Homo sapiens: one gene and its partner. The protein of the gene in region 2 interacts with the protein of the main gene of each other region in a pairwise test. Each region holds a gene or a part of one and is shown on either strand. Other genes may lie near its edges.

Region 1 (4,600 bases), on a different chromosome or scaffold from region 2:
TCCTAGCTAGTATTCCAGCTGAAGAAAATGGGCAGATTGGGAATAAATTTTGTTTATATTTTTAGTATCATCTTCTATGCAAGTGGGTTATCCATGGGATATTTTAAATCAATGCTGCAAAACACCCTATAGAGCTTCCAACTTTACCTCATAAGATATCTGTATAGGGACTGCGATCTAAATATAGTGTTAGTCTATTAAGAGAGAAACATACAGGAGGCAGTAACACAATGCTTTTCAAATCCAAAGAGAGTTTATGAGGGACACTGATGGTTCCTTATTTTAAAAATAGATATTAACTGCCAATATATTAAATACCAAGTTATGTTTTTAAAATAAAATTTTTGCTAGAAAATTTTCCTTAGATACTAAAATGCCACTTAAGCCTTCAAAATTTTACATCCTGGATTAGCAAATAATGACTATTATAGCATGGGAAATGCTAGCTTGATTTCAAGTTACTATATTATCATAAAGAGGTTTTCTGTGCGAAAACTAGTGGTGAATTTTTATGTTCCATATCAGGTGATTAACTAATATAAACTGAGCAATACTACATATATTGCAGGGCTTCACAACCGTGGTACTACTGACATCTAGGCTGGATCATTCTCTGTTGTAGGGGCTGTTCCATGCACTATGAGATATTTAGCGGCACCCCTGACCTCCACCCACTGTATGGCAGTAGCATTCCCTATACCATGAGGTTGGTGCAAAAGTAATTGTAGTTTTTGCCATAGTTGTGACAACCAGAAACATCTCTAGTCATTGCCAAATGTCCAGGGTGGGAGCAGGAGCAAAAATCATTCCAGTGGAAAATAACTGACATACTGAATAAGTCTGATAATAAAATTTCCAAGTTATGTAAACTAACAGATAAAGTACTGAGTATTTGCAAGTTGAAAGTTCACTGAAGTTGGGAACTGAACCTCTACTTCTACTACCCACCCTCCCACCTCCACCCAGTGTGCTATCTCATACACTTCGTGATATGGTTTGGATGTGTCCCCACCCAAATCTCATCTTGAATTGTACTCCCATAATTCCCACATGCTGTGGGAAGGACCCGATGAGAGATAATTTGAATCATGGGGGCAGCTTCCCCCATACTGTCCTCATCATAGTGAATAAGTATCATGAGATCTGATGGTTTCATCAGGGGTTCCCGCTTTTGCATCTTCCTTATTTTCTCTTGCCGCCACCAGGTAAGAAGTGCCTTTCAGCTGGATGCGGTGGCTCACGCCTGTAATCTCAGCACTTTGGGAGGCTGAGGACAGTGGATCACAAGGTCAGGGGTTCGAGGCCAGCCTGGCCAACATGGTGAAACCCCCATCTCCACTAAAAATACAAAAATTAGCCAGGCGTGGTAGCGCATGCCTGTAATCCCAGCTACTCAGGAGGCTGAGGCAGGAAATTGCTTGAACCTGGGAGGCAGAGGTTGCAGTGAGCTGAGATCATGCCACTGTGCTCCAGACTGAGTGACAGAGCAAGACTCCATCTCAAAAAAAAAAAAAAAAAAAAAGAAGTGCCTTTTGCCTCCCACCATGATTCTGAGTCCTCCCCAGCCATGTGGAACTGTAAGTGCAATTAAACTTCTTTTTCTTCTCAGTCTCAGGTATGTCTTTATCAGCTGCATGAAAACGGACTAATACACCTTGCCTCATCTCTTGCATTCAACACACACATGTTGATTGGCTCTTCTACAACTCCTCTGAAGGTTTTTAGAGTTCCATTGGAGTTCCATCAAGGGTAGCAAAAGACAGAAATCTATGGACTTAGGAGAAAATGACAGAATATGCATTCATTACCATGCAAAATCTAACTTGAGAAGAAAGGCAAAACCAAGGCGGGGAAATACGCTGACAAGAAAAATCAGTGAAACAGTCCACAGCTTCCACAGTTAGGCAGGCATTTTCTAGGTCTCAGTGTTGTCACCGGGATTAAGCAATGTCAGTGGGTACCACAAACGAGCCTATAATTTATGTAGAAGATGAGGGAGGAAGTGTACTCAAAATGAAAGGCAGTGCACCTATGTTCACAGCAGCACTATTCACAACAGCTAGAAGGTGAGAGCCACCCACGTATCTATCAGTGAATGAACAGACAAACAAAATGTGGTATACACATACAATGGAATATTAATTCAGCCTTAAAAAGGAAGGAAATTTTGACACATGCTACAACATGTATGAACTCAGAGGACATTATGTCAAGTAAAATAAGCCAGACACAAAAAGATAATTACTAGTTGATTCTACACATCTGAGGTCCTAGACTAGTAGTTAAATTCACAGAGAGAGAAAGGAGAAGAGTGGTTGCCAGTGGCCGGTGGGAGGACGGGAATGGGAGTTATTTAATGGGTATAGTTTCAGTTTTGCAAGTTAGAAAGAGTTTTGAGGATAGATCATGTTGATGGTTATACAATATGGATGTACTTAATGTCACTAAACTGCACACCTAAAAATGGATAATATGGTAAATTTTGTTATGTGTATTTTACTACAATTAAATAGAGAAAAAAGGGAAAGGCAAAGGAGAGCATGTGGTAGAGGAGAAAGAAAGAAGCAATACAGGAAGATGGAAATTTATGGTCTTTGAGGGGAATCCTCTTGACCTTGGCATTTATTACTTATGGGACCTAAGGTGAGCTACTTAGCATAATTGATTCTTTGTGTCTTCATCGGCATAATTGATGTGAGGATTAGCATATGATTGGCAATAGTAGATATTCAATTAATGACAGAAAAATGAAAATATAAAGAAAAATAGGGAAAAGATAAAAGACAGAGGTGAAATGTTGGGAAGTGGTATGTTATCAAAAATGACATATGCATCACTCTTTATGATGTTGTCTGCCTTCCTTTGAGACAACTAAAAACTTCCAAGGGAGATGAGATATAAAAACATCTTCAGAGCATCTGTGAAATGTAGTTTGTACAGCAATGACAAGTGATTTTCAAAGTTTTTTGGGTGGCAGAGAACCTGGAAACTACTTAAAACACTAGAAGTAATTAAAATAACTGAATAGAAAATTCTAGCCCACACAAAATGACATTTTTCACTAGATTATGATACGTATAACAAAGCCAAAGATCTAGAATTGTTTTCTGGGAAAAAGGCCTTAAGCATTCCATTCATTAAATTAAATTCCTGAGAACTGGGAAAAGTTATTAGCACCGGAACACGCTGGTCACTCATGGAACATCAGTGCATATAAAAGTAGAACTTAAGAACCACAGGCTTGCAGCTTTCCAGATACATTAAGTACAATACAGATCAGTGTAAACCATTAATTAACCAATTGTATAAATAAGAAATTTGGGGAGGTATACCAAAGGGTTGTTAATTGGCCTGTTTCAGGGTCATAAAACTCTATGGGGAAAGTGAGTGCTGTCGGACTTATTTGCCCTTCCACTTTCTTTCATACATTTCCCCAGAAAATAGCAAAGATAGTCAATAACATAATGTAGATTTTTTAATGTAGATTTCTTCTGAATTCTTAAAAAAATGGTGTCTTTCAATCAGTTATTAGAGATAGAATGACTAAAACTGTAGTCACGATTCACCTAAAAGGGGAAAATGAAGAACAATAAAACATCCTACAAGCCATGTCCAGACTTAAGTGACTCCAGGTTAAATTCGAGATGTATCACATGCTTGGGAAAGGATGTTTTTTTTCCACAACAAAGGGAGAGGAGCATAAAGATGTCAAATCGCTTCTGACTGAAAACCAAAGACTCTCATTAGAATGCAAAGAACTAGTTTTCAGGCCACTTGCTTTGTGAACAAAGCTCCATCAAATAAGATTAAGTTACACTCGAATTACGACATACAATCAGCCCTTTGGAGAAACAATCTTCAGAGCGGCCTGTGACAGAGGTCTGCCTGGAAGTACTGTTACAGCCTTGTCTAAGGACCCAGAGAAGCAGCATTGGGGGTGGGCACTGCTCTCCATCCCTGGAAGCTTGGCTCACTGTTGGAACTTCCTCCTTCCCTTCCTCTCTCTCTTTCTCTCCTCCCACCTAACCCTTTATTTTTTTCAAGACAGGATTTGCTCTGTCACCCAGGCTGGAGTGTGGTGGCACCATCACAGCTCAATGCAGCCTCCGCCTCCCAGGCTCAGGTGATCCTCCCACCTCAGTCTCCCGAGTACCTAGGACTACAGGTATGTGCCACCACATCCAGCTAATTTTTGGATTTTTTTGTAGAGATGGGGTTTCCCCATGTTGCCCAGGCTGCTCTCCAACTCCTGGGCTCAAACAATTCTCCTGCTTTGGCCTCTCAAAGAGTTGGGATTACAGGTGTGAGCCACTGTTCCTGGCCTTCTGTTAGAATTTCTTACCACTAAGAGAAGAAAGTCTCTCTCTGGGTTGTCAAAAGATATAAGAATATCTCGTCCTAAGATAAAACAGTATTCCATAATCTGTCAACTTCTCAAATTATTATAATTATAAATAATGATAATGATAAAATGGTGGCAGTGCATATTTAATAACTATAATTTGGTCACAGAATTACCATTGATATTAATAAGGCTAAGTAATGATACTAGGTGCTTATAGAGTCTTCTACCTACAAATTTTATAGATAATATCTTAGC
Region 2 (2,755 bases):
TAAAGCTAGTCCTTTTGTTGATACTCCAATTTTCTGTCTGGCTGTTTGCCATCTAGCTGTTTTTGAATGCCCCTGGCTAAGTGTCCAAAGGCTATTTGGGGCTGAGATTGTTGAGCACCTAAGGCAGTGACAGAGTGTGAGGGGACCTGAGAATGCTTCGATCCTCCCTGTACACTTTTTTTCTTGGTGCCCTATGGCATGTTTTATAATTGATCTGTTCAAAACACTTCTCTTGTTTTATTTTAGTTACGTTTATCTCCATTCCTACTCCCTTCCTCCTCCTCCCCAAGACACAGCTTAATGTGTTTAATGCGTGTCCTTTTAAAAAAATGTGTTATTGGGTCAGGCGCGGTGGCTCACTCCTGTAATCCCAGTACTTTGGGAGGCCAAGGCGGGTGGATCACCTGAGGTCAAGAGTTCGAGACCAGCCTGGCCAACATGGTGAAACCCCATCTCTACTAAAAATACAAAAATTAGTGGGGCGGTAGTGACATGCGCCTGTAATTCCAGCTACTTAGGAGGCTGAGACAGGAGAATCGCTTGAACCTGGGAGGCGGAGGTTGCAGTGAGCAGAGATCGTGCCACTGCACTCCAGCCTGGGCGACAGAGTGAGACTCCGTCTCAAAAAAAAAAAAAAAAAAGCGAAATAACTTAACAATTTTAATATTGGCCTGAATAATATATGTTGTCAAAATTAATTTTACCTATTTCTTTTTGTTTTGTAAAGTATGGATGCTAGAAAATTTTATATTAAGTAGTAATAATGCAGTTAGTACAAGAAGACGTCAAAATGTCTGACTGTTTTGAGATTGACTGAGGTTCAGTTTATTATTAATAGTTGGGATGGAAATAGGCCTACACGAAGTAAGGGATTTATCCAGAGAGCATGGATTCAAGTTCTTCCCTTGCAAATAACAGAAACCAATTCTGCTAACTTGTCCAAAAAAAAAAGAAAAAGAAAAAAAAAGCTCTCGGGGTCGGGGCAGGGGGTGCCCTCTCAGCATCAGGAGCCGGCAGCTGCCTTTCCCTCCGGCACTTTTCCCTTTTCTCCTCTCTGTGTCGTAGGCGTGCCAATCCCCAGGAGAGAGGCGTGATAGGCCCAGCCTTTGACATGTGGGGAAACACAGGCCTGTGATTGGCTACCGCATGACACCCAAGGGACAAGTTGCTATGGCAACGCGTGGGCGCGCTGTGGGCTCGTAGAAGCCAGGTGCGGACGCTGAACAGGCAGGCGAAGACCCGAGATGTCCTTTGCAAGGGTCCCAGAACTCGCCAGTGGCTCAGTCCTCCTCACTCCCAGAACAGTGCTCCTCCACACATGCGATGGCTTTTAATAAATATTTGAGTCACTCCCACTTCCAGTCTCTGCCCCTCCAGGCTCCACGTGCTCCTGGGTTCGTTCGGGTCGTTTTTGTCCCATAACTTTGGGCCAGAGGAGATCTGGATTTGGGCACAGAGGGAGATCAAACTCGGGTGGGATATCCAGTCATGCTGTCTGCTTTGTTTCCAGGGGTCTTCACGGCTTCTCTGCCCAGGGGCCAGAACCGAGGAGGCCAGGAGGGCTGCTGGGGCTAAGGGGTCTAAGGACCTCGTTGCACACGCTACCAGGAGCAGGGGCATGGAGCACAGTGAGGGGGCTCCCGGAGACCCAGCCGGTACTGTGGTACCCCAGGAGCTGCTGGAAGAGATGCTTTGGTTTTTTCGTGTGGAAGATGGTAAGTGGTGAGAGATTGACGGCAGGGGTGGGGGTGTGCCCCTCAACACAGAGCAGAGTTTGGCTGAAGGTCCTGACACTGTCGTCCCCTCCAGGTCAGGCGGTACATTTCCTCCAAGACAGGGAATCAGTCGGGGTGTCTCAGTACCCAGAGGGGTCTGGCTGGACCGCCCCTTCCTTTTCTCAGGGTGTGGTCGCTTATTTATGCAGCCCTCCAATCATCACATTTATTAAGCTCCTACTCTGTACCAGACACTGTTCTCAGCACTGGGGCGACAATAGTGAATAAAACACAAAAATCTCTGCCTTCATGGAATGTACATTCTAGTGGGGATTAAAAATAAACAACTAAAACGCATAGTGCGTTGGTGATGAGTAATAAAAAGAAAAATTAAACAGAGAAAGAGAATAGGAAGTATGCAGCAAGGGCAGTAATGTGGTCAAGGAAGGCCTCACTAAAAAGGTGACATTTTTATCATCAGGAAGGTGACTTGCAGGAAACTAAGGAAATAATTAGGTATGCAAATTATTTGGGGGAGGAACATTCCTGGAGGGAGGACAGCAAATGCAAGAGCTCTGAGGCTGGACCCTGCTTCATTTGGGTACAGCATGGACAAATCTTGAGTAGCCACATTCAGTTTAGTCACTTCATGTATTATCTGTGGGCAGTTGCCATTCCTTCCACCCTTCTCCCTGCCTTCTTTCTTTCCTTTTTTTTTCTTTCTTCTTCTTCTTCTTTTTTTTTTTTTTTTTGCCTTTTTTTTGAGGCAGGGTCACTCTGTTGCCCAGGCTGGAGTGCAGTGGTGCAATCTTGGCTCACTGCAAGCTCTGCCTCCTGGATTCAAGTGATTCTCATGCCTCAGTCTCCTGAGTAGCTGGGATTACAGTGTATGCCACCACACCCAGCTAATTTTTGTATTTTTAGTAGAGACAGCATTTCACCATGTTGGCCAGGCTGGTCTTGAACTCCCGACCTCAGGTGATCCACCTGACTCGGCTTCCCAAAGTGCTGGGATTATAGGCGTGAGCCACTGAGCCCAG

Evidence for each region.
Region 1: the proteins of SLC51B (region 2) and ASPH interact in binary tests that used the Homo sapiens proteins (3 or more experiments, as listed by UniProt).

What each region holds. Positions count from the first base shown.
Region 1 is NC_000008.11:61,503,993-61,508,592, forward strand, and holds part of ASPH (aspartyl/asparaginyl beta-hydroxylase), read right to left. Parts: intron 1-4,600.
Region 2 is NC_000015.10:65,048,387-65,051,141, forward strand, and holds part of SLC51B (organic solute transporter subunit beta), read left to right. Parts: intron 1-801; exon of another isoform or gene 802-1,510; 5' UTR 1,511-1,618; coding exon 1,619-1,715; exon of another isoform or gene 1,716-2,755.